Linked DNA regions of Homo sapiens: all the other regions are linked to region 1. The links come from fine-mapping of genetic effects on gene expression. A gene starts in region 1. Each other region holds a variant in brackets. All regions are shown on one strand. Distances are from middle to middle.

The links. PIP is the estimated chance that this variant, and not a neighbour inherited with it, causes the effect.
Region 2: its variant is fine-mapped to the expression of LINC02693 in pancreas (GTEx, PIP 0.93).
Region 3: its variant is fine-mapped to the expression of LINC02693 in whole blood (TOPMed, PIP above 0.99). The same link has a PIP of 0.9 or more in blood mononuclear cells and monocytes.
Region 4: its variant is fine-mapped to the expression of LINC02693 in whole blood (INTERVAL, PIP above 0.99).
Region 5: its variant is fine-mapped to the expression of LINC02693 in whole blood (TOPMed, PIP above 0.99).
Region 6: its variant is fine-mapped to the expression of LINC02693 in whole blood (TOPMed, PIP above 0.99).
Region 7: its variant is fine-mapped to the expression of LINC02693 in whole blood (INTERVAL, PIP above 0.99). The same link has a PIP of 0.9 or more in monocytes.

What each region holds. Positions count from the first base shown.
Region 1 is chr17:21,549,225-21,553,561 of GRCh38, forward strand. LINC02693 (long intergenic non-protein coding RNA 2693) reads right to left here and starts at 2,454. Exons shown (of 2, transcript NR_160801.1): 1 at 1,772-2,454. RefSeq lists a silencer at 2,348-2,517.
Region 2 is chr17:21,736,869-21,741,205 of GRCh38, forward strand. No RefSeq gene overlaps it. Among named protein-coding and RNA genes, the nearest start is that of KCNJ18, 47 kb to the left of the region's middle. The variant C/A (reference allele first, on the strand shown) is at 2,356.
Region 3 is chr17:22,104,692-22,109,028 of GRCh38, forward strand. It overlaps the pseudogene UBBP4. Among named protein-coding and RNA genes, the nearest start is that of LINC02002, 160 kb to the right of the region's middle. The variant T/C (reference allele first, on the strand shown) is at 2,359.
Region 4 is chr17:22,438,753-22,443,089 of GRCh38, forward strand. It overlaps LOC124903954 (a long non-coding RNA gene), which reads left to right and starts at 1,389. Exons shown (of 2, transcript XR_007065672.1): 1 at 1,389-1,489; 2 at 1,581-2,299. The variant T/C (reference allele first, on the strand shown) is at 2,186.
Region 5 is chr17:21,403,190-21,407,526 of GRCh38, forward strand. All of the region lies in intron 1 of KCNJ12 (potassium inwardly rectifying channel subfamily J member 12), which reads left to right. Among named protein-coding and RNA genes, the nearest start is that of KCNJ12, 29 kb to the left of the region's middle. RefSeq lists enhancers at 1,050-1,549, 1,957-2,457. The variant G/A (reference allele first, on the strand shown) is at 2,282.
Region 6 is chr17:22,054,245-22,058,581 of GRCh38, forward strand. No RefSeq gene overlaps it. Among named protein-coding and RNA genes, the nearest start is that of LINC02002, 210 kb to the right of the region's middle. The variant A/G (reference allele first, on the strand shown) is at 2,403.
Region 7 is chr17:21,541,107-21,545,443 of GRCh38, forward strand. The region is part of intron 1 of LINC02693 (long intergenic non-protein coding RNA 2693); the gene reads right to left. Among named protein-coding and RNA genes, the nearest start is that of LINC02693, 8.4 kb to the right of the region's middle. The variant G/A (reference allele first, on the strand shown) is at 2,063.

The sequences.
Region 1 (4,337 bases):
GCAGGCACCAGGTTGTCTGAGCTTTTATTCTACTGCAATGAGTAGATAGTGGCAGGGTTTACACAGGGGTGGGGGTATGCCTATATCATGTTTTAACATTTTCAAGAGATCACTCTGGATGCTTGAGTGGAGGCTGGACTGTAGCAGGGCAAGACAAGATGCAGGGAGGTTGGAGGATTCTTGGCAGTAGCCCAGTAGGAGAGGAAGGTGACTGAAACTGGTTGTGGAAATGGAGATGGTGAATCAGGATGCTGGTTGCACTCAAGAGCCACAGGACTTGCTGTGTGGTTGCATGGGGGTTGGGGGAGAAGGGAAAAGAGTCAGGGATGACTCTTGGTGCTCCCCTCAGGGAAGAGGCCCCAAGCCTAGTGGTTATCAACAGATGGATGGTATTTAAAGCTATGAGACTGTGTGGGATCATTCTGAGAGGATCACTAGAGATCTGGTGGAGGAGGAGCAGGAGGATGAGGATAAAGGTGAGAGGGAATCCAGGAGGGAAGGTCCCTAAAATCCAGAAGAAAGGGTGGAACTCCTCAATTGTATCGTCTGTGTCAAATGCAGCTAAATGACTGAGATAAAAGTCGTTTCAGCAAAGTACCTTGGAGGAAAGCTGGAAAGGAGTGGGTGCAAGAGAGGACATGAGGTGAGGAAGTTGCATGGAGCAGAGAAACAGAATGGTAAATGGAGAGAAACCTGGGGTTAAAAAAGGTCTATTTGTTTAATGCACAGCATTAAGGAATGCTTGTGTGTGGACACTAGCAAAAAATCAGTACAGAGAACCCCAGAATTCTGGGGTCATAGCCCGAAAGGACTCCTCAGCTCCAAATTTACTTGAAGTTACAGCTTCCATCTTTAAATTAAATGGGATTTTTTTTTTTTTTGCCATCTATTTCATCATACAGGATGTGACACAGAATATATCTGAAAGTATAACTTTCCTGGAAGAACACATCTTAGTTTTTAATATCTAAACTGTATAGCAGCTATTTATCTCACAAAACATTTTTCAGGCTGAGTGCGGTTGGTGACTCACGCCTGTGATTCCAGCACTTTGGGAGGCCAAGGCAGGAAAATTGCTTGAGTCTAGAAGTTCGAGGCCAGCCTGGGCAATGTGGGGAGATGTAGTTTCTACAAAAAATTTAGAAATTAACAGGCATGGTGGCACAAACCTGTGGTCTCAGCTACTGGGGAGGCTGAAGCAGGTGGATCGCTGGAACCCCTTTCGTGGTGCAGTTTGGGCAAAAGAGCAAGAACCTGTCTCAAATTTTTTGGCTGATGGTTGTAGACATAATGTTTGAGCTTTCAAAAATTACAACATTTTAAACTAAATAGTTTGCTGGAAAAAACCACATGTTCCTTCCAGAAACAACTGGTAGACCATCAGGATCATGACAGTCACTTCAAAAAGCTTTGGTGTGTTGACAAAGGGGAGGTTCACGTGTGATGTTGCTGGTCGCACAGCTACTGCATCCAAGGCAAATGCATGTTAACAACCATATCAAATGTGGGTGACCAAGTGGCAACATTTAAGCATTTTACATCCTAACTTATGTGCAACTTAAACCTACTGCCACACTGTGAGTTAGGAAATTGGTAGGTTTTTTTCTATTGACTTGTTGTGCCCTATAATTTTTCCTATTTAAAATAATGGGAAACAAGTTTTCAGTTTTTTTCTCAGAAAAAGTCTGACATTTCAGGCACAGATATGTCTGACAGTTATTACCAGCAGAAGAGTTTCTAGCCTTTTCATCGTAAAATTTTAATTACTTACCTTGGAAATTACTTAACTTCGTTCCTTCCAAATCTGGTAGTAAAATGGGTGCTCCAGAAAGCTGTGGCACGGATATTCTGCTGCTTTGCTCGTCTCTGCACAGACCTGGGGCTTGAGGAGCCTGCAGCCACGAAGTACAGGACGTCATCAGAATGGAAAAGCGATCCAGATGGTCCCGCAGGCGCAGTGCTGGGGCGTAAAGTGCAGCCTGTGCACGGCGGGTGGGAGGCGCGCGGGCTCGCCGGGGCTCGGGACTGTGTTCTTGCAGCCGAGAGGCCCACACAGGACAAGGAGGCCTGACCCAGGCTGTTGGAGCCCGCGAAGAGGGGGTGAAACTCCAAGGGGCGTAAGGGTGATCACACGTGCGGCCAAGCTTCCCGTCTGCATGGCGAGGGGCTGGGCCTTTCCGTCGTGATTTTTCTCCCATTATGCCGGGCGCGTAGCGGGCCCTGGGGCGGCGGGACCGGTGCGGGCGTTCAGTCAGCCCGGGGTCCTGGAGGCCGGCGGGGGGATTCGCAGCAGCCCGAGGGACGGATGGATGGCAGAAAGGAGTCTCTACTTCCAGGTTCCCAGTGATCGCTATGTTCCTTACAAGCAGTAAACTCACGACTTCAGACACCCGCCACGGAGCTCCGCGCGCAGTCCTCAAACAGCCAGCCACGCCGGCCGGGCGCACAGCGCATGCCCCGGGGTCGGGGCGGGGCGGAGGAGACGGGGCGGGGCGGAGGGGACGGGGCGGGGCGGAGGGGACGAGGCGGAGCCGGGCGGGGTTGAGGGGACGGGGCGGGGCTTGGCGGGGGCGGAGCCGCCCAGCGCTGAATCCAAATCGTATCTAAGCTATTTTCTAGCTCTGACATCGTATACATCACTGCATACGTGAATAGCATGCCAAATACTGTATAAACCAATACTGGTTTTTTTCTTCTCGGGAGGTACTATATAAATAAAGCACGTACACGGTATCTAATATCAGAACATTCAAATCCCATATTGAAAAGATTATAAATTGACCATAATCCTATAATTCTGTTTAGCAACAGTGCGTTCCTTCTCAGTCTTCACTTTTAAAATATCTAAGAGGCTCGATGTCTTGAGGCTTTTTCTTTTTAAACCCAACATCCTTTTTCACATTTATTAGTTTAGTACTTTGGTTTTACTCAATAAAAAGGTGGGGTTAAAAAAATCTGAATTATTCTGCAATGTTTCAGGCAACAGAGGCTGAAAACAACACTGTTAAGGCGGGGGGACAATTCTTATACTCTGTGAGTCTTCTTGTTTAATTTTCATTAAATTTCCAGAATAATAAGCGTAGGATAGCTAACGTTTGTCTTTGCGTCGTAGATTAGTTAACCTTTACTGAATTCACAATATGGCATCAGAGATTTAATCTGCATTTCCTAATTCTTATAAATTAAAGCTGAAGTTTAAGCTTCATTCGCACGTCACAAATACCACTTGCCCTGAATAAATAATGTTTTTAGAAGTGAGCATTCCTGATCTCCCTGTTTGTTAAGAATTGTCTTCTTTTTTCAGCTGCTACTCTGCTAAGACAAGAGTTAGCCCCTGAGCTATGTTATCAGTTCAAGGCTTTGCAGATAGCGCTGTATCGTGGGGGAAAAATGAACATGGTTTTCAAAAAGGAGGAGAACATTTCTATAACGTTGAGACTTTTAGTAATCAGGGCTATTGATGTCAGATGGCTGTTGGGACAAATGACATCATAAAAAATACAAAATTTAAAATTATGTTTGTTTATGTTTGTTTGTTTTCAGATTTCTTAGTAGTAAAGGGGCTGTGTTTTCACTCAGGCTTATATGATGATGACATTTCTCAGACCAGCAGCTATCTGCTAGCATTCTGTCCTGGACTTGGGGTGCACCTGTGACAGTAGCTGGGCTTGTCATCCAGTGAATAGCTCATAGTTGACTCCTCTCCATCAGTATAAGCATGGGTGTGGGTGACTGCATGGTAGAGGGGGCCGGGGTAGCCAGGGACCAGAGGTTAGTGAACCATTGGGTAAGATGTATAACTGTTACTCAGGCTCATAATTTTTCAACTTTTTCAGATAGTAATAACAAGAAAGTCCATCCTTACCAGTGTCAGTCTCTGTTTTAAGTGTTGTTCATATATTACCTCATTTAATTATCACACCAACCCTATGAGACTCAGAATGTAAATAGGCTACTGAGGTCACATTGCTGGTGGATCTTAATCTCAGGCCAGCTTGGCTCCTAAGTGTGTGTTCTCACTCTATTGCCTCTAGAACAGGAAGGAATATATGGATACTGTAAATTGTTAAAGAACAAGTTGAAAGAATTTTATTTCCGGCAACATGGGCTGACAAGAACCAGAAAACAACAAAAACTTCTGGAATACATATCAAGAACCATTTTAAAAAATGTATCAATGAGCTGCAAAATAATTAAGAGTTCGCAAAGGCAAAAAAATTAAAATTAAAAAGTGAAAGTAGAAACCCAAAGAAGTAATTAGATGCCATTTTTCACCCTTAAGATAGTTGCCAAGTGTCATACTGAAACTCTCTTTTCATAGTCTGGGAAGAGGATGG
Region 2 (4,337 bases), 190 kb after region 1:
GTATCAAAGTGAGACTCTGTCTCAAAAAAACCAAAACCAAAAAACCAACAAAACAAAAAAGAACCACAAAAAAGATGTCATAGCAATGCTGTGTGTACGGGAATCTCCAGCAGGACACACAAACAATCCAGCGCTGACCTCTGGAGAGAACCGAGAGGCTGGGGATGCGGCAGGGAGGGGACGTCCACTCCGTGCCTGGATTCCTGTGAACATGGGGCCGTGCACAGTGCCCACGAAAATGAAAATGAAACCTGCCAGCCTGCTGGCCAGGGACTTGTAGTGAAGCACAAACACCACGGACGTGACTGTTGCTGGTGGAGGTTGCAGCCTCTGGATGCCTCAGTGGCGCTGTTCTTGCAGCTGAGCGGAAATGCCCACAGCGTCCGCATCTGGCACGTGCCCGGGGGCCTGCAGCCTCAACAGCCTCAACCCGGAGATACTGATGGTGTGGAAAGGCGGAGACACTGATGGTGCGAAAAGGAAAAGGCGTCTGGGAGGGCCTGTGAGCTGGAGGGCAGCCATTGGGGAGGTGGAGGAGAACCGTGAGGCGTGTTTCTCCGCATGACAGATGTCACCTGAAACCACCCGGATGCTGGCCAAGGCTTTGGCCTCTTCTTGCTGCCTCTGTATTTCTGAAAATGCATTGCTAATGGGGTGAAGGGACTCACCCTCAGGCCTGCCGCCCCACCAGGCTGGGCCAGGACACCAGGCACCCGGCATTACCCCATCACAGCCCCAGGCTGCGTGTGTGTGTCTGGGCGTATCTGTATTTGCATGTCTGTGTCTCTGTATCTATGCAGGTATAGATATGTATGTCTCTATTATCTATATTTGTGTGTCCATGTATATGTGTGTGTGCCTATGCAGATGTGTCTGTATGTGTGTGCCTGTGTGTCCATGTGTGTCTGTGTGTACTGATGTGTGATTGTATGTCCCTGTGTGTCTGTATGTGATCATGTGTGTCCATGTGTGCACGTGTCCGCGTCTGTGTGTACTCATGTGTGACTGTATGTGTCCCTGTGTGTCTGTGTTGTGCATACCCATGTGTGTCTGTGCGCACATGTACATATCTGTGTGTAGTTGTGTCTGTGTCCCTGTGCACCCTTGTGTAGCTGGGTCTGTGTCCAGCTGTGTAAAAGGCTTCAGCAGGGGAAGCTGGGCTCTGCCACAGGCCCTGATGAGAGTCAAGGCCATAAAACAAACCCTCTGAGCCCCAAACACCTGGTCCTAGGAACGGGCTGGACTTGGGAGTAAGTCAGCCCAGAGCGACTGTGAGGGCCCCAAGCCTGTGGGAACAAGAATGAAGAGGAGTCCTGGGTCTGGGGTCCAGGCCCCTCCTCAGCCAGTACTGAGAGGGCAAGAGAGAGATCATAGCAGGCTCTGCTGACTGGGCTGATTCTCTGCCCTGGAGACTGCAGGCCAGGGGTCTCCCTCTTGGCCTCCCCTGCCACTAGGTGATGCTCAGGGCTGGGGGTAGGGACAGACACTTCATGCCCTGGAGCTGCCTGACTGGCCCTGGCTGTGCCTGCTGCAGAAGTGGTATCAGCTGACATCATGAGGTGTGACATCACTGAGGCCTCCTCGAAGTTGAGTCTATTACTGTGGAAGAAGCCCATCAGTCCTCGTCCTCAGGAAGCTCATGATTCAGGCAAGGAAAGAGGCCCACAGCCAGACCACTCTGATCTGTGCAGTCAGGACATGGCCACGGAATCAGGCAGGATCCAGCCAGGAAAAAGAAGCCCTCCAGTTCTCTCCAACAGAGAGAATTGCGTCTAGGGAGCTGGTCACACTGTGATAAAGGCTCTGAGAGCTAAACGGGATGAGGAGGAATCCAGGATTGAAATCAGCAGGAAGCCGCCATCCCAGGCTGGAGGCAGGGAAGAAAGCAACAGGGTCACCAGTCCCAGGGGCTGTGTTCATGCGAAGGGAGCTGGAGCCTCGGCAGGGGTGTCTGGAGCCATGGGGCTGGTGGGGGCAGGTGGCCGCTGCTAGGAGGCCATCCGAGGAGAGACATAAGGAGAGACGTGCCCCGCTCCCCCACCACCACCAAGCGCAGAAGCCTGAGGGCAAAGGATACTGGGAAATGACCTGAGGGTCAGAGCAGGGGCCCATGGGGGTGGGATGGGGCCCACCTGACAGGCTAGGATGGGAGCACAGCTAGGCCTGCAGCAGGCCCGTCCCCAGGGGCCTGCTCAAACCACAGCCTGCCACTCATCCTAGCAGGGGCCTGGTCTACAACAGGTGCTCAAAAGCATGAGTCGCACAGTGAGTGGGTGCAGAGTGGGAGATAAAGCCAGGTGGCTGGGGCCCCAGATGGGAAGGAGAAGGAAGGGATGGACACTGGGTGTGTCCATG[C/A]CGAGACCTCAGAGGCTCTGAATGCCAGCTTGGGTTTGGCTGAAATCTGAGGGCTGGCACGTCCCCAAACATTCTCTCTCTCACCATAACTTGAAAATGAGTAAGATGTTTAGCCCTAAAGCATCAAAGCCCCTGACTGCTCTTGTTTCTGTCCTAAGCTAGACAGCCCAGTGTTCATTTCCCCCATTCTCCAGACAAGGAAACTGAGGCACAGAAACATGGAGGACCTTGACCAAGTGACGAAGTGACCTGCCCGAGATTTCAGTTAGGGGTGGCACAGCTACAGCAAGGGGCGGTGGACGCCCACCCACCCCCGACTTTCCAAAGGTGGAGAGATTGCTGCAAACTGCCAGCAACTGGTGACAACCAGGAGAATGTGGTCAAGACCGTTCAGTGACCTTTCAGTTCTGCCTCGTTGGGTGGCAACCGTGCTTCAATCACCAGTGTTTTTCTCCAGACAGAATATAAAGAAGCAGAAACCTGTGATAACGCATGTGCCATCTGTGCCCCAACCACATCCTCTTGCCAGGGCCACAAGCCCTTGCAGGACTCAAGCAAGAGGGTGGATAAGGCAGGCCAAAGGGGTGGACACTCCTGACTCTAGGTTTCAATTTCTTAAGAAAGGCTGGAAATCAGGACTTTTTATGGAAACAAATCTTAGATTTGAAAATGCTGGCCCCTAGTTGGAATGTTTAAAGTATGTGGAATGAATCCATGGAGGCCAGGCTGAGTGCCTACAGTAGGGGCCAGGCCTGTGAGCTCTGCCAGCTCTGAAGCAACTTTCTCAAGTGCCAAGCACATGCCGACCACAGGGCATTTGCACTGCTGCTCCCTGCCTGGAAAGCTCTTCCTGCTGGCATCTTGTGACTCATCCCGCACTGTCTTCAGGCATCTGCTCAAATGTCTCCTCCAGGAGGTCTTCCCTGACCTTTTCCTTCCCATTTCGCTGGTTTATTTTTCTTTACAGTGCTCACTACCACCTGACATCTCAGTGTTGTCCCGCTCCCGATGAGAACATCAGCTCCGTCGTGAGGGCAGGGTCCTTGTCTTAGGCATCCCTGGATGCACAGGGCCTGCCCAACCCAGAGCAGACACTCAGTCAACATTTGATGAATTCATGGTTTAGCACTTCAGGACCCCTGAGGCATGGCCACGGGGACACAGGGCACCCAGGACCATATGCATCACAGACGTGATGTCTGAAAGAGAAGCCAGCTGAGCAGGTTCCAGCCCTTCCCACCCCACAGACTTGCTGGGAGCTTTGGGAAGCCCTGACCCTCTGGAGGCCTCAATTTCCCCACCTGTGCAGTGAGGAGGTGATACATGCCACAGTCTCAGGAGCACTCATGGGGTCCCAAGGTGGCCATCATTGCTGGCTTCCTCAGCCAAGCAGAGGGACAGATAGATTGATCAGCTCCATATTGATCGCAGGGACGCAGCTGCTCTGGAGGGGGCAGGAGGAGTGGGAAGCTAAGTGGAGCCAGGACCCCTGGAGGAAGGAAAAGCAAATGCCACAGCCCCATCAATGCCTGGGACCAGGGGGCGGGAAGGGCCGTGATCACCCATCTGAGGGTTTCTTCCCCTGTCACCTAGGGGTTCAGAGAAGCTCAAGGGAGCTCCAGGGGAGCCCAGGCCAGGGCGAATTCTGAACATGGCAAAGAGACCTCCCCAGCGCACCCTGAGGAGGCCATCTCAAAGCTTCCCCGCTTCTAAGTCATGGAGCAGCTGAGGCCGGGGGCTGGGCCAAGGGAGTCCCAGGGGGTCCCTGCCCATTCAAGCCATGACATTTCTTGGATGCCGTTCACTGAGTCTGGAAGTGTATGCAAGGCTGGCATTCTGCTGCAGAGTCCACTTGAGGCTTGTTTTCATACAAGAGCCTCACGTCCTGCCCTGGATCTTCCAGGAAAGCCAACGCCCAACAGATGAGATGCTGGGAATGTGGCCAGCTCTCTCTGGGAGTGATATCCCCATGTGGGACATGC
Region 3 (4,337 bases), 560 kb after region 1:
TGACTACATGTATCTATAGTATTGTCTAAGCAACAGGAGTTTAGTTTGCATGTTTAGTATTTTTGAGAGCACATCAATGTAATGAAATGTATTTAAAATTATGCCCATATATACATAATTATATATATTTATTTATATATTTTTTACAACAGTGTTTTTCCTTGGAGATGATTCAATCAAATTGCAGCAGAGACACTTCTAATTAGTTATTAGGAAGTACAATCTAGGATTGTTTTCCTGAACGTTTGTGACTAGCAATGTTCTCTTACAGACGTGGGGGTCTGGACACTTGGACCTTAAATTGGAAATGGTTAAAACAGTGTTAGCCAAAGAATGACAATGGTTTGTTTGCCAAGTCTTTTTGTTTTGTTTTGTTTTGTTCTTTTGAGACGGAATCTTGCTCTGTCACCCAGACTTGAGTGCAGTGGCGTGATCTCGGCTAACCGTAACCTCTGCCTCCCGGGTTCAAGCAATTATGCCACCTCAGCTCCCTGAGTAGCTGGGATTACAGGCAACCGCCATCATGCCCAGCTAATTTTGTATTTTTAGTAGAGATGGTGTTTCACTATGTTGGTCAGGCTAATCTTGAACTCCTGACCTCAATGAATCCATCTGCCTCAGCCTCCCAAAGTGCTGGGATTACAGGCGTGTGCCACTGCACCCAGCTGCCAAGTCTTTTTGTGTTAGTATTGCTGTTGAATATATCTGGTGTTTTCATTCAAGAAAACACTTAAAAGCCATTTTAGGGGCTGGGCGCGGTGGCTCACGCCTGTAATCCCAGCAGTTTGGGAGGCCAAGGCGGGCGGATCACCAGGTCAGGATATCAAGACCATCCTGGCTAACACGGTGAAACTCCGTCCCTACTAAAAATACAAAAAATTAGCCTGGCATAGTGGCGGGCGCCTGTTGTCCCAGCTACTCGGGAGGCTGAGTCAGGAGAATGGCATGAACCCGGGAGGCAGAGCTTGCAGTCCAGCCTGGGCGACAGAGCCAGACTCCGTCTCAAAAAAATAAAAACAAAAGCCATTTTAGGGTAAAAGAACCTTTCTCAGAACTATCACTGTACACATCTTCCTGTTTCACTGATCCCTCTTCTCTCCTTTAGTTTTAACCTTTTGTGATAGCTCTTTATGCATCTTCTTCTGAGGTCATTGAAGATGTGTTCTGTCTTACTGGTTTCTGTTACCACTAAGTACTTCTTATTTCTAAACAGGTGGTTTGATTTTATGACCACTCAGACAACTCTAAGTAAGATGCAAGCATGTGCTACTTCTCCCTACTCTACACTCATAAACTTCAAACAATTCCCTCTTCTGTCTGCATCTTCCGATAAGGATATAGACTTAGAACTTTTAAAATCGATGGCTAACCACTCTTTACTGCAAGAGTGGTATACTATATTGGACCATGATTATGGGCAAGATCACCTAAACAGAATGGATAACTTTACACTCTGTGTAAGTACTCACTAGGCACTCTCCTAGTAGTGTCTCTACTTGATAGAGCAAAGTAATAGAAGAAAAATGAGCAACTTCATTCTCATGATTTCTAATATGTCATCATAAATATGAGGTCCTTCATTTCTGTTAAGTAGAAAACCAATGATGATACTGCTTACAGAAAACCATCTGTCCATCTTCATCTGTATCAACAAACTTCCAGGCAATTTGCATTGGCACAAGCTGTTATTTGTCTTTGCTAATGTTTAACAATAAAATTCTCAATGACATACTTGATACTCTGGAAAGATAGTATTTTTATTCTTCACAGGGTAGAACATGCATTACAAATTATGTAATTAGTAAAATACGTGCAATGAAATGGTTTCAATTTCCTGTATGAATAGTTTTTATGATGGTTATCTAATAATCTAAAATATTTATATTTCAATTAGTGTTTTACTTAATACTTTATTACTTCCTTTTAATCAATCAAAAAGGAGGTATTACCTGTCCAAAGGAAGCTTAGCTATGTATTATGCATTGGAGACTACATTAAGGAATTCACTAGGCAATGAGTTCTAGGTGTTAAAAGGGGCATTAATTTAAAAAAATATTAAAGATGCGAAATTTTTAAAGCCTCAAAGACGTGAATAAAAGGTTTAAAGAAGAAAATACTGTGTTGATCGAACAATATTTATTTTTTCCCAAATGACTAAGCTTTCAAATCAGGGACTAATCATGAAAGACCACATGACTTATTTTTAAATTAAAAACGATACTGAAATATATTTTTCTGGTTGAAGAGAGCTTTATTCTAAAAAGAAAAAATGTCTATGAAGCAAAAAAAAAAAGAAAACATATGCTCTTTTCTTATGTTTGCTCAAGCAGAATTTACCTCTGCAACTCGTATAATCAG[T/C]GCTATAATTATGTACAGATATATTTTGATACTTCAAAGCATCTATAAAATTCCCTAAATGAAAATTATTTTAGATTAAATATATTAATGACCAAGACAGCTTTTTTTGTTTATAAGCAAATTAGATTATATTGCTTATGAAAGTTTTTTATATTTTTATTCCATGGATCATGCAAAAAATCATGTTAGACAATGAAAGGATATCGTGTTTTCTCCTTTTTGCCTTATTACCATTTTTTTTCTGTGCTTAGTTCTGCCTTTGCTGTATAGTGTGGAAATATAAAAAATTACAAGAATTGCTCAGGTGTCTTTTTCAAACCTCCAGGTTGCCAATATATTCACTTCATCACTCTTATCTGATTCCCACACATTCCTCTATGATCCTACAGAGCAGTTACGTTTCTTATAAAATCTAACAGACCACCCAACTATGGTTTGCAACATCAAACCGTCATGCTTCTTGTACACAATATATTAGAAAATTGGGTTTTTACATATCAGAGTAGAAATATATTTCACACATATTTGAGGCATACTGTTATATTCCTAAGGAAATAATATTTTATTTAATTGAAGCCACATGATTTTTACTATGATGTAATTACTCACTGACCACCAAGTCTACAGACAGCCTTTACCAGAATCAAGATACACATAGGTAAATTATTTTGAATATCTTTTGAAATCTGGGGTGCTCAATTTGATCCATGCAGATTACCTTAATTAGCATACATCTATTGGTCATTGGCATACTTTTTAAAATGAGATATAAAATTATACAAATATCTGTAAGTTCTCTACAGCATCTTTTCCTAGCAGCATTTTACAGCGGATAAAGGAGGTTGCCAGTAGATAGACAAAACAAAAAATAGAAACACTTCTTAAGCATACTTTTTTTTACATGTCATAACATGAATCTACTATCTTTTTTTATTTTTACTTTTGTATTCTGAAAAAATGTTAAAATTGGTTATTACCACTGTCTCTCTGTTCTTTCCTAATAATGTCCTTTTCCTCTATTGTCAGCATTTTAAAAAACATTCTTGATCTCTAACACCTTTCTAGAAAATTCTGACAAATTAAGTGGCAGCTAGAACAAGAGGAGATTTAAAGAATTATTGTTGACAATGAAAATAATGAAGTACATATTTAGCATGGGCATGTTGCATGTTGACAATATATCATTGCATAAATGTTTGAAATATTTTTCCTTTATGAAGTAATTGTCATCAAGATCGAAGCTATTGAATATATTTGCTGTATAACTTTGTATAAAATAGATTTATATTGCTTTGAGCTGAACAGATATTTGCAATGAAATTGTCCTTGTCCATGTTATTTTAATTTTGTCTACTGTCATTGGCAGAAATGTATCTAATACCTTATCTCTTTCCCCAAATCACATACAACTGAAAGATGCTAGATGTTAAGAGTTCTGGTAAAGTAGTCTTCTAAAATCCTTTTTCATTTGTCTAGAGAAAAAAAAGTACCAGAATTCAGGACAGATTTTTCTTCAAGGTATCAAGAGTAGACCATATAGATTTTTTCAAGTAAATTTCTAAAGCTATATTTTAGAAATCAAAAAAGAAATATTTGCATTAAAACCATTATTCCCTTAAATTTTTAGAGGATTCTGTTTGACTTTGGCATGAGTAAAGTCCATTCTCTTATTTGCAGTGCTATTAGATATGAGGAGTTTTAGCAGAGATCCTGGAACAACTGCTGCCTATCAGGGTGTGAAATCAATGACATGGATTCCTGTAGAAACTATTTACTTTGCTATATCTCCTCAATATATGTATATACAAACAAGATCTTTGACGCTGGCTTGAAATCCACAGCAAGAGGTACACCAGGAAGCATCAAAAACTATTAAGTATATACAAAAATAGTTGAATGCATACCTCAGTTAGCAATGTTAACAGAGTTTGTGTCCCACAACCATTAGATTTTGCTACTCACAATTATCAGACCAAATT
Region 4 (4,337 bases), 890 kb after region 1:
GGTAAGGACTCGGAGCCAGACAACTTCATTTCCTGTCACCTGGGCTGCTCTCCCTCTGACAGCTATGGAAATTGGTGAAGCACAGGAACGTATTGGAAATGGCAATGATGTGCAATGCCAATGTGTGGAAGTGTACAAGTTAAGTAATATTTTAAAAACAGAACACACAGCAGTTTGCACAATCTGATCAAAGCTCTGTCATGTATGTTTCTAAACAAGTTTGGAAGAGAATTTGGAAATGGCTGAATTTTTTTAATAAAGCTCATGTTTTTAGTTTGTTTAAATGTAAAAGCATACACTTAGAAACAAGTTAGTACATAAGAATTTTTAATCTTAGCTATCTGGAAGCTTCAAATACCTAGAATGAGGCATTTCCCAAAGGTCTCTGTAACTTGAATTTTACCGTAGTTTGAAAACTCTTGCCAGGCATACTGGCTCACACAGGTAATCCCAGCACTTTGGGAGATTGAGGTGGGCAGATTGCTTGAGCTAGGAGTTAGAGACCAGCCTGGGCAACATGGTGAAACCCCATCTCTACAAAAAATTTAAAAATTAGCTGGGAGTGGTGGCACTGCCGTTTGACACAGCTACTCAGGAGGCTGGGGTGGGAGGATCCTTGAGCCCGGGAGGTCCAGGCTGCAGTGAGCCATGATTGCATCCCTGTACTTCAACCTGGGCAACAGTGCCAGACCCTGCCCCCTCCCCCAAAAGAAAACTATTAGTTCATAGTGCAGTTGATGAAATAATGTACATCCACAAAGAAAGGAGCAACCATAATATGTATATAATTACTCAGTATTAAAATATTGTATATAGTATTACATATATAATATTGAATACCTATAATGAATGGGGCACTGCTTTAAGCACTGTATACTCATTATCCCACAAGAATTCCTTCTCGGGTAGGTCTTAGTATATTCAATTTAAAGGCTAATTAGTAAGCAATACATAGAATTGAACAAGAAGCTAAAACATAGAAGGCTCTCGAAAATACAATGTGGAATGAGTAATGCAAGTTACAGAGATACATAGCACATTTATAGAAAGTGTAAAAACTTACAAAGTTAAACACTATATTATTTAGATAAACAATATATTATTTAGAGATGTTATTATGTAATAAAAGTATAAAAGTCAGGGAAATAATATGTTTTGTAAAGCTTCAGATGAATGATTGTCCTAGATGGGGAGGCAAATGGTTACATTTCCAAAGGGCCAACCATGAAGACGGCTTCAAATGTAGTGGTGTAGGTGATGGATACAATGTATTTATTTTACTTTTATGTGAGTCTGTGTGTATGTATGTGTGTGAGTGTGTGTGCAATTTTGTATGTATAAATATGTAGTAATTTTTTTTTGAGTTTGGGTGTTTCTCTGTCTCCCAGGCTGAAGTGCAGTGGCATGATCACGGCTCACTGCAGCCTCCACCTCTCAGGCTCAAGTGATGCTTCCACCTCAGCCTCCTGAGTACCTGGGACTACAACTGGTAAATATTTTGCTATTATAGATTCGGCTATCATGTTCTGTTCAGTGCCTATTTCAATAGCCTCTCTGCCTTAATTCACCTTCATCTGCAGTGGGACACAGTACTTCTTCTCTAGGCTACCCATGGGGTACCCCAACAGCGTTGCCACCACATACAATCTTCATAGAGCTCTTAACTGCATCCAGCTTTCTCCAGGAGCTCAGGATGCCCCAGACCCTCATCGCAGACAGCATTGCCCTGGAGCTTATGGCTGGAGATGATATCACCACAGACATCCCCAACCCAGCCCTGTCCTGGGAGCAGGATTCTGGCCTCCCTATTAGGCCTCAGAAACTGGCTGACCACCTGGCTTCACAAACCTGTGTGTTTTCAGGGAAAATTTTGATCTCTACAAACCATGACATGTAGAGAGGGACACACATCTGATTCAGCAGTCCCTGATCCGCTGATCCATGGACACATTTGCCCACAAGGAATAACCTAGAATTTCTCTCTGGTGGAGGTCAGGGGCATTACATGAGCTGAGTAGAGCTTAGTTTTTAATCACTAGACATAGGCAAGGTGTTTAAGTTATTACGCTTCCAAGCAGCATGGTCCTCACTCACTCAAGGTGAGATAAATATTGCTGCAAAGGAACAACAGCTGCATTGTTGGAGTTTTGCTTTTGAGGCGTGTGTGTGTGTGTGTGTGTGTGTG[T/C]GCATTTGTGTGTGTGTGCGTGAGTTGATTTCTTTCACAAAATACATTTTCACATACTTCCTTACTCCAATCTACATTGCCCCTTCCTTTTAAATAAATTTTTTTGAAAACTAATAAGCCTATTTTATTTATTTACATTTTTTATTTACGTTTCTTTACAAACTGTTTGCTATTAGTCTACAGTGAAAAGTCAACACTTTATAAAATAAGATTAGCATTTAAAAGCTTCTCAATTCTAATACTTTGAAAGGCTACACCCATTTTCAGAAAGTCTGGGCTATTCAAAATATTTTACAAAATTCTGAAACTTCGAAAAGCTGCAAGATTTGGAGACAGCAAGATGAAGTGTTTTTTCTAACAGCCAGTTTTGTTCACTTTATTATTAAATATGCACTTTTTAAATTAACAGCTTGAATTCTAGAATATATTTTTGAAAATCACTAATGATTTTTGTAAAAATAGAAAATCTGTTGTACCTTTATCTTAAAATTCACTTCTTATCTATTTTCTAGATTTGATGTTTTGTCATTTTAAAGGATACTAGACAAGAGGATCTCAATTTGGATCACTATATTGGGCTCCTAATATCCTAATATAATTTTAAATCATCTCAAACAATGCATTATTACCATATACATCAGCATTTCCCAAACTGTGCTATAAGCTATGTATACTTTTGCTATTTTTGAGCTAAAATATGCTTACAAATATATAAAAATATAAAAATATATTTAGGTGTTGTTATGCAATAATGCACTTTTCAAAAAGAAACGATATACCAGTCTCAAGAATACCCGGAAGCTGCATGAAAATTCTTGATTCCTTTTATATATAGTGACAGAAAAAGATGTAAATCTAACAATTGGTTATTTTTATTGTTTAAAGTTTTTTCTATAAGCACATGTGAATTAAGTATTCATTATTCCATATTCCTCATGTCACCGACGCTGGGTGCCCACAGCACTGTTTTTCTAACACTGCAGCTGTGGGACTGAGGGTGGCAGACCAGACACCTGCACTGAGCCACATTCGTCACACAGTTGGACCAGCCCTGAGCCGGGGGCAGAAACATCCTGATGTGAAAAGCTGTTTGCTAAGTACAATGACCACACGTTTCGTCTATTTTGAATACACCATCACAACAAACTCTACACTCTTGACAGATGAGACAGGCAGATATGATCTTTGAACACAAGTGAGAAAGACGTTCACACAGACTCCCATCCTCCCTCACATGACTGGAGGATTAAAATGGTGGTGGGGGGTGGATATTCAGCTCAGGGGCAGATTAGTGACACTCTCACAGCTATTTTAAGATACGAAATATTTATATGATCCTATTCCAAACCCTAATACATAAATAATGAACTCAGAACTGTACACAAAGGGAAACAAAAAACCACTCTGACAGTGTCCAGGTCCCTCATAAACTTCCCAGAAGTCAAGGAGGTCAAGGCTGGTCTCAAACTCCTAGGCTCAAGCGATCTGCCCACCTGGGCCTCCCAAAGCTCTGGGATTACAGGCATAAGCCACCAAACACAGCCTAGTACGTTCTTTCGATATGTTTGGAATGAATGTGTTTCCAAGGATAAAAGCTTACAATGACATCTTTCTTACCTGTAAGATACCCGAAGAGCAGAGAGAGGGTCCCCAGGCTGGCTAAGCATCCAGAACACTGGGGGAGCTTTAAAAACATAGATATAAATTATTGTATTTCACCCCTTACTTACTGAATCACAATCCCAGGGATGGAAGCACCCAGAGATCTGTCTTTTTAGAACTTCTCCAGCTCTCCAAGTGGTGCTGACAATCAGGCAGATTGAGAGCCAGTGCTTCAGGCAGCTCATCCCAGACCTCGGGAGCAGGGGAGTCACCCAGAGCTATGTCAGACTGAAGGTTCTGGTGCATCAGGGGTGGGGAGGGTCTTGAGAGTTGGCCTTTCCAACAAGCTTCCCAGAGGGGCTGCTTTGCTGATCCTCACCAGGCTTTGAGGGTGCACAGCACTCTTCCTCTAGGTGTGTGTCCACATACCTGGCACATTTGTTGTTGCATTGCCCCAGGTATAAAGTGCAGGGTGCCCCCTCTACACCTTCAGCCCTGCTGTCTCCCCTGCTGACCCCCAAATCTCTGGGGCTTGGACTTACCTTTATAA
Region 5 (4,337 bases), 150 kb before region 1:
GCTCTGGCTGAGGCTCTGAGGTGTGGGACATTCCAGAGACATTGGAAGCCCAACCCTAGCTCTCTGCTCATTCCTACTGTGTCCTTTTTTCTTATTGATTCATAAGAACTCTTTATATATTAAGCACATGGGTCCGATTTAAACAAACACATTATTTTTCTTTTATTTTACTTACGATTGGTTTTGACAACATCATACATATTTTTATGTTGGCAAATTTCCCAGCCTTTCCTTTGGTGGTCTTTCTGGTCCCAGGATGCTTCTTGTGTCCTTACCTTGTGTCCTTGCTCTCCTGTGCACATGCTGGCTGCTCAGGACATGTCTGAGACTCAAATTAAGTTGAAGCTGGAAAATTTACAGCTGTATGAAAATCAGAAGCCAGGGTGCCTTTGCTGACCTGTGCCTCCCGCTGGGGTTCCTGCCCATCATTCCTTCTTGCTTGGAGTGGGGTCCAGCTGAGGCCCTAAAGGGGCCTGTGACTCTCTGCAGGGTGAGGCAGAGGCTCATAGCTGTGATGAAGGGAGAGGGTGGGAGGACAGGGAGTTCCCAGCTGGCCAGTCTCCATGTATTCACTCATGGAAACCCCATTGCAACCACATGAGATAGGTGCTATGATTAGTTCCATTTTATAGGTGAGAAAACTGCGGTTCAGAGAGGTTATGTGGCTTGCCCAAGGCCACACAGGAAGGGATGGAGACAGGATTTGAATTCATGCCTTGTTGCCCCAGAACTCTTATAGTTTCAAGCTCTCTTATGGCCCTTGGGCTCCCCATTGCCTTTGGGATCAAGTCTAGGCTCATTAATATGACATCCGAGGCCTCCTGGGGTGATGCCTCGGCCTCTGTGCCTGCACACGCTGAGCTTCCCTGATATGATGGTGGCAAGGCTGTGCCCATCTCTTCACACCTTCCCCACAAACCCCGAATAGTTTAGATCCTGGAATGGAGGGCTGGCAGGGCTTCTGTGGAGTAGCTGGGCCAGCCCCCTGGTTTGCACACAGTCAGGGTGGGTCTTGCCCAAGGCCTAGTGCCTGGAGAGTGAAGCTGGAATCTGCACCAAGACTGCAGGACTCTGGTGCTCCTAGCTGTGTCACTGTGCTATGGTTGGTCTCAGGCGGGGTTCTCTCCCCTGCTGCTCGCTGCTGCCTCCCCACTGGCAGATACTCCTCTAGGAAGCACCCCTCCTGCCACTGGGTTAGACACCTCGCCTGGGCTCCCGAGGGCCCAGCGAGTTGTGACTGCTGACTTCTCACCGTCTGCCCTGTGAGGCAGGGTGCCCCATGAAGGCAGGCGCCCAATGCTTCCTCTTCAAGTCCTCGGTGCCCAGTGAGGACTTGAAGAGGGAGACCCAGAGAGGGACAGAGCCCTGCTCCAGGTCACACAGCAAGTTGGGGCAGAGCCAGGAGTCCTAGAAGGGCCCCAAGACCCTCCAGGTCTCCCCTGTTCCTAGGACTTAACGGAGCCCAGGGATGGGGCAGTGTCTGCGATGGCCACCCCAGCAGAGGGCACTACTGTAGGGCCTCTGTTCTCTGCTTCTCCCAGGGGCCTGGGGCCAAGGACACCCTCTCTCCCTCCTGCCCCCACCCTCTGTGAAGAAGGATGTTCTCAAGATAGAAATACCGTCAGAAACATTCCCTGGTGTTTGGTGTGACTGTCGTCCACTCTGTGGGGCCAGAACCTTCTGACCTGGCCTCACCTCAGGGCTTAAGGGTGGACGTTTGCCTTTTCTGGCCGCTTGGTGCAGCCTCTTTCTGGGGTCCATATGTCCAGCCCCCATCTTTACGCCACGGAATGTGAGGGGTCAGTGTCACTCAAGGTTCCTGCAGCTTCCACTTTCTGAGCATCCTCTGTGGGCCGGGCGCATCCCGAGCATGGAACAGCGAGGCAGATCCTGCCCTTGTGCGTTTTGTGGCTCCTTGCGGGCCAGGGGGGCTTCTGAGGACATCCAGCAGGCCACAGGGAGGCTTGGGCACAGCCAGCTTTCCGTCCTGTTGGGAAGCCTGTTTCTGCTTTCAGTGCCCACGTGGTGTCAGGAACGCCGGTCACAGTGAACGCCTGCAGGACCCACACTGCTGCATCGTCTCTGTGGGACAGATACTGAAGCCAGGGCTTGGCTTACCCTTGTGACAGTCTCCCGAGGTGTGTGGGGTCTCCTCATTTTGCAGATGGGGAGTTTCAGGCCCCAGTGAGCTGGGGGGCTGCCAGGCCTCTCCAGGGAGGGTGACAGCTGCCACCTCCCAGAGACCCGCTGGGGCGAGGCCCAGTGCCCGGACTGCAGCTTC[G/A]TCACCACCTTCAATTTCATGGCACACCCTCTGAGAGGCCTGGCAGGCGACACCAGCCTCGTTTTTCAGAGGAAGCTGAGCCTCAGGAAGGGGAAGTGCCTTGCCCTGTTCCGTGGGGGATTTCAGCCCCAGCCTCAGCCCAGGCCCTGCCCTCCCCTGCGGGACGCTGTGGGCCAGCCCGGCCTGTTGGCCCTCAGTCGTGGTCATGGGGAAGCACTGCCCCTGCAGCCCACCTCCCCATCCAGGATTGTGACCATAACCCCGGGAAGCATTTGTGGGACTTGGCGGGGTGAGCTCACATGGCGGCTGCTGTGGCCCCTGCAGGTGGCGGGAGCTCTGGCCAGGGCATGTGGAAGGCTGGCTCCTGTTTGCAGGGTCCTGCCCTGCACTGTGACTTCAGGAAAGTCTCTTCTCTGCTCTACGTCTCAGTACCCCTGTGTAGAATAGAGCTAATTTTGCCTTCCTCCTAGATAAGAACAAATCCAGCTGGATTTGTGGTCTGGGGAATGCCCCTTCCAGGTAGTAGGGAGTGAGGGACGAGGTTGGGAGAGCCTGCTGCAAGCCAGGTGACCAGCAGGACGTGGATAGGGGCTGCTGCCCACACTTCTGGCCCCCACCCCTGCTTGGCTTCCCATGGCCCTGTGGCAATATCCGACCTTCGCTGCTCAGAGTTCCAGCTCCAGGTGACTGGGCAGGTGACTTAGCTTCTCTCAGCCTCAGTTTTCCTATCTGTCCAGAGGGGAGAATTGTCCCTCCTCCAAGGCAGGGCTGTGAGCATCGGGATGACTGCAGCCAGCTGCCAAGCATGCAGGGCTTGCACAGTGTTGGCCCACTCGGGGAAGGGGGTGGACCCAAGTCCCTGCCGTGGAGGTCCCCAGCTGTGTGATGTTGGCTTGTGACAGAACCTCTCTGAACCTCTGCAGCTCATCCACCTGTCCATCCATCCACCCATCCATCTCTGAACCTCTGTGTCCCCATCAGTTTTGAGGATGGAATGGCTGAGAGAGGCAAAGTGTAGGCCTGTGGCTTCTGCTCCCAGAATGATGAGGGATGGGGAAGAAGGGGCTGGGGATTGGGGGACTTGGAGGGTGAAGAGGGACTGAAGGGCCACTAGAGACCAGGCAGGCCATCCCATTTCAGAACAAGCTGAGAGAGGGGAAGTGACTCACTCAAGGTCACACAGCTTATGAGGGGCAGAGCTGGGATTTGAATCTAGGTCTGTGTGCCTCTAAACCACTGTCACCTGTCCCAGGAGGCTAATGAGGTGGGGGTGACTTACCAACATTTGCCTTAATTCCAGCCAGAAAAACCAGTGTGACAAACCAGCCTTGGCTGTAACCTTGGAAAGGGCAGGCCCCATGAACTCCCTGGCTGGGAGGTGCGGAGGTGAGAAGCATGTCAGGTGGCTCACCGTGGAGATCCTCAGAGCCCCTTCCCACCAACCTCTTCTCTGATTCTCACGGCACACTGGATAGGAAGGCAGGGGGATCCCTTTGACAGGTGGGGAAATTGCATCTTTGGGATTGCAGGGACCATGTAGGATGTATGTGTACCCAAGGCAAATCTCTGGCAAATTACTGATGTGTGCCCATCCACGTAGTTAGCCATGTGCCCACCTGCTCATCCATCTAGTCATCTATCCTACTCGCCCAAACACCCTATCCATCCATCTACCCACTCATCACCCACCCTCACACCCATCCACCCATCCATCTATCCATCTACCCACCCATCCACCCACCCATCCATTCACCCATCTATCCATCCATCCACCCTTCCATCCCTCTATCCATTCATTTCTCTACCCACCCATACACTCATCCACCTGTCCATCTATCCACCCATCCACTCATCCACTCATTCACTCCACCCATCCATCACCCAACATTCCATCCATCCATCCATCCATGCACCCATCACCCATTCATCCATTAATCTGTTCATCCACCCACTCAACCATATACCCACCCATCCACCCAGCCATCCCTCTATCCATTCACTTCTTCACTCACCCATCCACTCATTCACTCACCCATCCATCCACCCAATCATCTGC
Region 6 (4,337 bases), 510 kb after region 1:
GCAAATTGTCTCTCTCACTAGACCTCCAGCCCCTAAAAATCAGGGACAGCTTAATGCATGTTGGAAATGGCTACTCCTCACTTAATTACCCTAATTAGCTAGTTATATTCCTTTATATTTATGTTTCCCCATTTATTGAAGCTTTCCACAAGCCAGGCACTGAGATCCAGGGGAGGACAGGGGAGGACCCTGAGGGTAGGACAAGCATGAGCACTGAAGGCTACAATGGCACAGGCACCAACAGATCATGTGGGGTGCAGGAAGCCTCATCTCTAGAGTGTCTTCCTGGTTTACCATACGCTTTCTTCCCTTCCCTTATTGGAGTCACCTTGTGCTGACTTTGATAGCCTGTGTCCCTGAAACATGCACTCCCACACACACAAACCGACCCACACCTATCCACATGTACCTGCCCATACATACACAGACCTCTCTGTGTATCCCCCAGAGCTACAAATGCCAATCTTGAGAATGAAGATTTTGCAAGTGCTCTGTGCCAGGCATGATGCCAGGTCCCTGACAACAAAAGACCCCTCTGGTTTCTCCCACTCAGCTGTGCAAGGTTCGGGGTTGAGGAGCTCCCCCTGCCAAGGTCACAGACGTGGAACATGAGGTAACAGCTATTTGAATGTAAGCCTGTAGGTCACCAAAACATAAGCCATCTGCACCCCACCACACTGCCTCCAAAGCACATGAAGCCATGAGTCTATCAACTGTGACTCATTAGTAGCCAGGAATATTTCCTCCTCCACTTCGCTTCCCACTGCCACTCCAGTATCTCTGCCCACAGTCCCAGAGCCACCTCTGCTTAACGGGGAGGTCAGGACTGATGCTCCATTCCACCCAATGCCATCTCCCAGGGTGCAGCCTCCTCACAGGAAAGAGGACTACCGTGGCTAGTGGTGACATGGGTGGCTCTGGCCTCCAGGACTTCTCCCCAGGACCTCTGCTCAGGACATGGCACGGACAGAGGTGAGGTTGCCATAAAACTGCCTCGGAAATGACTACAAACCAGCTCAGACCATTCCAGCACCTAACACGCTGACAGCCCACGGTGGGCCCACAGAAGGGGAAGGGCTAGGGAGTCCAGGGCCGCAAGAGTTCACCCTCCCTGAGCCCTTGAGCACAGCCACCCAGGTGTAAAGAACAATATGGGGGTTCTGGGGATTCCCAAGCCTGGGCCCTAGAGGTGAGTTCTAGCAGGGCCCCCAGATATCCTCCCCATCCATCCCCTCATCCTGTCTCACATATTGTAAAAACAAGGAAACTGAGGCCTAGAGAGGGAAGGGGCTTGAGGAGTCTCCCAGGCAGTTAGAGACAGAGCCCAAGTGAGAATCTGTGTTTCTCTCATTTTTTTCCCCTAGGTCTGTCTCTGACTAGCTATGTGACCTTGGAAGAGGCACTCCACCTCTCTGGGCATTGAAGGTTTACAACTTCTGACATGTTCATTCCAGAGGGTTGTCAGGACCTGACAGCCCTTCACCTAAACAAAACACTCTACAGTCTACTAATATTCGTATATCTCTTATCTTCTCTGACCTCTGTAATACCCCTATGAGGCTGTGAAAATTGGTGCTTGTGTCAGAAAGACAAAGATCACGCAGAAAATTTGGGACAGGACTGGAACTAGAACCCAGGTCTCTCAAAGCAGGGTCCTTGCCATCACTAAGGCTAGGAATACATTAAGACTCCAAAATATGGAGAGTTGCTCAATGCATGCCACCAAGGTTAGAGCTGACCAACCCCAGAATGCTCAGCGGCTCTGAGACCCTGGAGTGGCGGACTCAAGGCAGAGGGTGATGCCGAAATCACACACATCTGAGCTCCAATCCAAACTCCACTACGCAGCTGTGTGACCCCACTTTATGAGGCTCAGCATTCTCTAGTACAAAATGAAACTACAGAAGGTACCAAAAAGCTCAGGATGAGGGGAGAACTGCACCCTGAATGCAGGACTGCCAGGCAGGTGGTAAGCACTCATTAGCTTCTGTTTCAAGCACACAAATCATATGTTGTTTTTCATCATGTCTCCCCATGGTGTCTGGTCTATGGCTCCAGAACCAGGAGGCTTCTGATCAATCCTTATGCTAAATGATAGACAGATAGATGGGTGGGTGGTTAGACAAATAAATGGATGGATGCATGGATTGATAGATTGATGCTGGGATGAATGGATGGATGAATAGATGGATGAATGGATAAATGAATGGATAGGTGCTCAGAAGACAGAATAAAACAGGGATTCAAAATGAAAATAACAAGATGATTGAAGGATGGGGCTGGTACATGGAAGAGAGGTACAAGATCCAGCCCTTCTGGCTCTATTCAGCCCTACAACCACATACCTTGGGGTAGCACTGGCACATGCTCCAGATTATACCCCTGGATACCATGATGCTGCC[A/G]CAGAAGGTTTCATTGAACTGGGGCCCATCATGGCTCAGGAGGAATGTACTGAGAGCCAGGAGAAGACTCATACATTGAAGCTGAAGCAGAAGGTCTTCTCGTCTGCCAAAGTCTCCTCAGCTGCTATGGCTGCCAGCCAGGCCCTGGCCTGTGCACCCCTGCCAGAAGGGGCCTGTGCCATCCAACATAAACATCCAGACAGGCTCACAGGAAGAGATGAAGCTCTTGGATCACTGCAAATCAAGGCTTAAAGTTAAAGGGAGGGCAAGACCCCTTCAGCTCCAGGCCCATTCCCTGGACCCACCAGTGCAGCAGGGCTGAAGGCAGCATGCTTCGGTGGACCAGTGAACCCACTCCCCACCCTCTCTCCTTCCCTTGGGGCCCAGAAGGCCTGGAGTACATGTGTGAACATGGGTGAGGGAGCATGCAAGGGAGGAACAAGGGGAGGTTACAGGGGCTGGGCCCCAGGCAAGCCTGTGACAAAACCTTCTTTGCCTACTTTGGGGCTGAACTGAGTAAACAGCTGATCCCACACCTTCTAGCCCCGGGAAACAGGGTACAACTCTGCAGCCAAAATATGTTAGAATGCTGCCAGAGGATTTCAGGATCCCACTGCCAGGCATTTCAGGATCCTAGATTTTAGACCCTTCAAGGATATGTGTCCATCTGGGATTCAGGCATGATGGCCCATATGTAGTGGATGGTGATGATGGGCATGACATCATTCTAAGCATGTTACAGCTGTTAACTCACTTAAGGGACTGCATGAGGCAGGTATTGCTACACCCACTATGCAGAGGACACTGAGCACAGACAACTAACTTGCCCAAGGTCACACAGCTGGAAATGGTAGAGAAGCTGGAACGTGAACCCAGAAGCTGTGCCCCTGGCCACAGGGCAATCCTGCTTAATAGCAGCACAAGGTTATGGGTGAGAGCTCTGATGGCAAGGCAGGCTGCCTGGGTTTAGATCCTGGCTCCTGTACTGCGGGGCAGCGTGGTCTTGATCACATTACCTGCCTGTGTCTGTTTCCTCCTCTGTAAAATGGGGATAATAACGGTACCTCCCAGCATTGGCGCTGTCTCCAGGCCTAGGTGTCCTGGATCCTTCTGCCCCCTTTACACTCTGTGCAGCATCCAGACCTGCTTGTAATGAGCTCCTCTACTCCCCCACCAAAGCTCTGGTGAATTAATGTCCCTGTGGGGTATAAGTGACTGATAGTAACTTCCTCAATCTCCTTGCAGCCTAATCTAAGAAGATGCCTTCTAAAGAATAGCATTCTAATGTGAAATTTTTGTCCTGTGAAAGGCTAATGGGAGAAATCAGATTCCTTTGCAAGGTTACAGAAAAAACAGGACAATGAGTATCTCTAAGAGAGAATGCTCACTTTGAGTGTCGATGGGGTTAGGTGGCCAATACAGGATGAAAGGCTTTCATTTGGCTCCCTGACCTGCTGGATTTGGGGATTTCCCTGGACCTGGTCATTACCTCTTTCCTCCTGCCCAGCATGTGCTCACACCAGCCCCTCTGCCTCATAGTCCTTCCCACAGGCCTTTTTTCTTACATTTTTTTAGAGAAGGTAAGCTCAGAGGGACTTTTAATATGCCAATCGATGTTAAGAAAACACAAGCCAAAGACAAGTGCAAACATGCTTTCAACCAACATTAATGAGGAAACAAGACACAAATTCTTTTTCTTTTTATATTTTATTTTTGAGATGGAATCTCACTCTGTCGCTCAAGCTGGAGTGCAGTGGCGTGATCTCCACTCACCACAAGCTCCTCCTTCTGGGTTCACGCCATTCTCCTGCCTCAGACTCCTGAGTAGCTGGGACTACAGGCGCCTGCAACCACGCCCAGCTAATTTTTTGTATTATGGTAAAGATGGGGTTTCACCGTGTTAGCCAGGATGGTCTCGATCTCCTGACCTTGTGA
Region 7 (4,337 bases), 8.1 kb before region 1:
GCACGGTGCTCTGCACATCATATGCACTCAGCACTTGTGAAATTGAGTTGAATCAGAAACAAAACGAGGAGCAGAGGTCAAGTCCTGCAAAAGATAGTAAGTAAGTAAGTAATGTAAATAACGCAATTAAGACTGAAAGGCTACAGCTCGGCAGCAAAGACTTCACATTCGTTTAAGAAACCATTTGCTACTAGTTCATCAAAAGACGTTGGTTTCATGCTGTGGTTCTCAATTCTGGCCACACATTGTAACCAGTTGGAGAGCTTTAAACAGCAAGGATGTCTGGATCCTACCCCAGGGATTCTGATTTCACTGGTCTGTTGCAACTTGGGTTTTGGGAATTTTAAAAGCCCCCTGCCACCCAGGTGATTGTAAGGTGCATCAGGGGTGAGAACCTTAGCTGTGCCTGATTTCCTTGTGTGCTGCGGGGATTTGCCTCATCGCAGCATCTCAGCTTTGCGGGGAGGGGTGGTGGGCAGTCTTAGAAAACAGCTCTGCCCTGTTAAAATCAAAGGACGGCTCAAGACGTGCTCAGCTGCTTGACTAAATTGCAGCAGGAGGAAATGTCTTTTCAGCAGATCTATCTTTACATCACTTGCTTTCAGAGTAAGAGGTTGTTTTGGGCACAGCATTTTGATTTAGTCTGTGTTGAAGACCAGTAATAGCCTACAAATACCAAAATGGGATGAAAAGAATTTCCAAACATGTGAAGTGCTTTATACGTGTTTCTTCATCCTTCCCTGTGTCTACACCCTTTGCAATGCGCTTTTACAGCTGCTCCCATCCAGAGTTAGAATCTGTTTCCCAAGACTTGGATCCAGCTGGCAGTTTTGGGCCCAGTCTCAAAAGGTCTTGAATGCTTCTTCCTTTTCTTTCAGAACCGTGCTATCTCCGTGACAACAAGCCCAAGTTAGCCTGCTAGAGGATGAAACACTTTGCGGAAGAGAACCAAAGTTGCCCAGTCCACAAGCCAACTCACTCTCAACAGCAGAGCTGTCTGGTCACCAGCAGCTGACCCCCTTCTCCCATACACACACATGAAGATTGCTATACCTTATAAAGGTACGGCAGGTTTTATAGGTATAGCAATTAATTTATGGCAGGAGCCTGCCATAAATTGCTGACTTGCTCAATCATGAGCTAAATAAGTTTTGGGATGGCTCATTACACAGTAACAGCTAACTAACACACCCAGAGCTGACAGGATGCCAGGATTAACAACATGCTGACTACAAGTTAGCTGGCACACTATAGGGACCGTCTAGGTACTGAATTCCTTTTCCCCTTATTAGAAGTTGGGTCCCTTGAATTATAAAGAAATGCATGTAGACATGTATGTGCTTAAAACTCACACAGTATCACACAACACAGGAGGAAATAGATGACAGCCTGACCACTAGGGCAAAGGCCAAATAGCAAGGTAAGGCATTTGTCTGGAATCTATTCCCTCCAAATCTAAACTCTGGAGGTCAAGGCTGTGGACAGGACCCACCTCCTGGGACCCCGCTGTCCTCTGATCTCTGGAGGGGAGAATGGCCCCACCAAGCAGCAGATGGGCAGCAGTGGCCTACCTGTGGCCACCTCCTGCTGGCAGCCCCTGCTCTCTCAGGGCACTCTCTCTTCCTTTGGGACTGAGAAGAGATGTGGGTAGGGAGGGGGAGCTCCCTCCCTCCTGGCAGAGAAGTGGGGTTCAGGCCCTTCACCTTCCTGAGTTCAGGGAGTCAGAGCCCTCAGAACATCTGGAATCTGGCTGCTTTGAACTGAGATATGCTAGAAGTGTAAAATATGGAGTGAGTTTTAAAGATTTAGGACAAAGAAATGTAAAACGTTTCATTAGTATTTTTATACTGATCACACATTAAAATGATATTTTGGATACATCGGGTCAAATAAATTATATTATTACAAATCAATTCCATCTGTTTCTCTTTAGTTTCCTTAACCTGGCTAGTAGAAAATTTAAAACTACAGGCAGGCATAGCTCATATTCTGTTTATATTGGACACGGCTGTCTTAAAGGACTGCCTCCTTTCCGAAGCTCAGGCTGCCTCCAGTCATGGTG[G/A]AAGGGGAAGTGGAGCAAAGAAGAAAGGAGGTGGGGTGCCACGCGCTTTCACAACAACCAGCTCTCATGTTCCATAGAGCAAGAACTCACTCACTACCACCAGGACAGCACCAAGCCATTCCTGAAGGATCTGTCCCCAAGACCCAAACACCTCTCACTAGGCCCCCCTTTCAACATTGGGAATCAAATTTCTTTCTTTCTTTCTTTTTTTTTTTTGCTAGAGGACAGGAAGGTTATAAAATCTGAAAATTTTAAATAATTTGTCATTTTGTTGTTTCCATTTGTGAACAAAGGACTTAATAAAAAATTTAAGATTTAACATTAAAATAAAATACATTCATTTCAATATCACGCTGGAATTCAACATTGTTTTGCACGGGGGCTGCAGAAACAATGTAGAGCTTCTTCCTCCTCCAGACCCTCACAGCTCAGCAAGCCTCTCAAGGGCTGGTTGCTGGCCACTGCGTTTCCAGTTTTTGTAGGTTCTCTTCCTCCCAGGTGATTAAGGAACAAGGCCAAAGGTGTTTGAAGCTTTCAGAAAACACAGGATTTTTCTTTCTGTGGCTCACCAGCATTTTCATTTCTATATCAGCAACACCATATGCAGGCCACAGCTGAGCCAAAACACATAATGAATTGAGTCTGAAATCAAATTGTACCTAATATTTACAGCCATGTGCATTACTAAAAAGGGGCATATCTTCCAACAATTCCAGTAAGTTCCCAAGACTTAGTTCACACTGGGTACTAGCCTGTGATGGTGCCCCTGTGCTTGTTACTGGGGGCAAAATGGGACAGTGTTTGCTGAGTTCATGGCTGAGGGGCTGCGGTGCGATGCAGAGAGCAAAACTTCCCACTGAATAACACTCCTATGTGAGAGCGGCATGGCGGCCAAGGTCAGCTGGCTCAAGGCAACTGCCTCCTTTTTTCCTAACAAGCAACATTTTCAGGGAAAAACCCCAGCTTCAATGTAGGAAGGTTTTGATGGTGGCTCAGGCCTCGGACTGAATTAAAAAGGAATAAGGAGATAAAATCCATATTTTAATTATAAACAAATGTCTCACTGAAAAAATTCCAGACCCATAAATCCATCTATGTATTAGTTATTGGAGTAATTTAAAATGTGAGGAAATTATAAAGTGTGTGTCCCTTATTATATATTTCTTCCCCCCACCACTTTTTGAACATCTAAAGTTCCTAACACATAGATACTCTTTTATGAGGAAAAAAAAACCTGTTGACATTGATACAGTTTGAATATTTGTCCCCTCCAGATCTCATGTTGAAATTTGACCTCCTAGTGAGACCCTGTCTCTACAAAAAATTAAAAACTTAGTTGGGCATGGTGGATTGAGCCTGTTATCCCAGCTACTCAGGAGGCCGAGGTGGGAGGACCTCTGGAGCTCCAGGAGTTGGATGCCACAGTAAGCTACGGCTCAGCTCAGCCATGGCTTCTATAGTGAGCTATAACTGCGCTACTTCACTCCACCCTGGGTGACAGAGTCAGATTATCTCTTTAACAAAACAAAACAAAACAAAACAAAACAAAACAAAACAAAACAAAACAAAACAGAAGAAAGAAATTTGATTCCCAATGTTGAAAATGGGGCCTAGGATGGGTGTGGTGGTGCAAGCCTGTAATCCCAGCACTTTGGGAGGCCGGGGCAGGCAGATCACAAGGTCAGGAGATCGAGACCATCCTGGTTAACACAGTGAAACCCCGTCTCTACTAAAAATACAAAAAATTAGCCCGGCGTGGTGGTGGGCACCTGTAGTCCCAGCTACTCGGGAGGCTGAGGCAGAAGAATGGCATGAACCTGGGAGGCAGAGCTTGCAGTGAGCTGAGATCATGCCACTGCACTCCAGCCTGGGTGACAGAGCGAAATACCATCTCAAAAAAAAAAGAAAGAAAGAAAGAAGAAAGAAATTTGATTCCCAATGTTGAAAGCGGGGCCTAGTGAGAGGTGTTTGGGTCTTTGAGGGCAGATCCTTCAGGAATGGCTTGGTGCTGTCCCAGTGGTAGTGAGTTCCTGCTCTATGAAACATGAGAGCTGGTTGTTGGAAGGCACGTGGCACCCCACCTCCTTTCTTCCTTGCTCCACTTCCCCTTCCACCATGACTGGAGGCTTCCTAGGGTCCTCACCAGAAACAGATGGTGGTGCCAGGCTGGTACAGCCTGCAGAATCATAAGCCAAATAAATCTCTTTTCTTCATAAATTACCCAGCCTCGGGTGTTCTTTTATAGCAACAGAAAATAGACTAATACAGACATCAA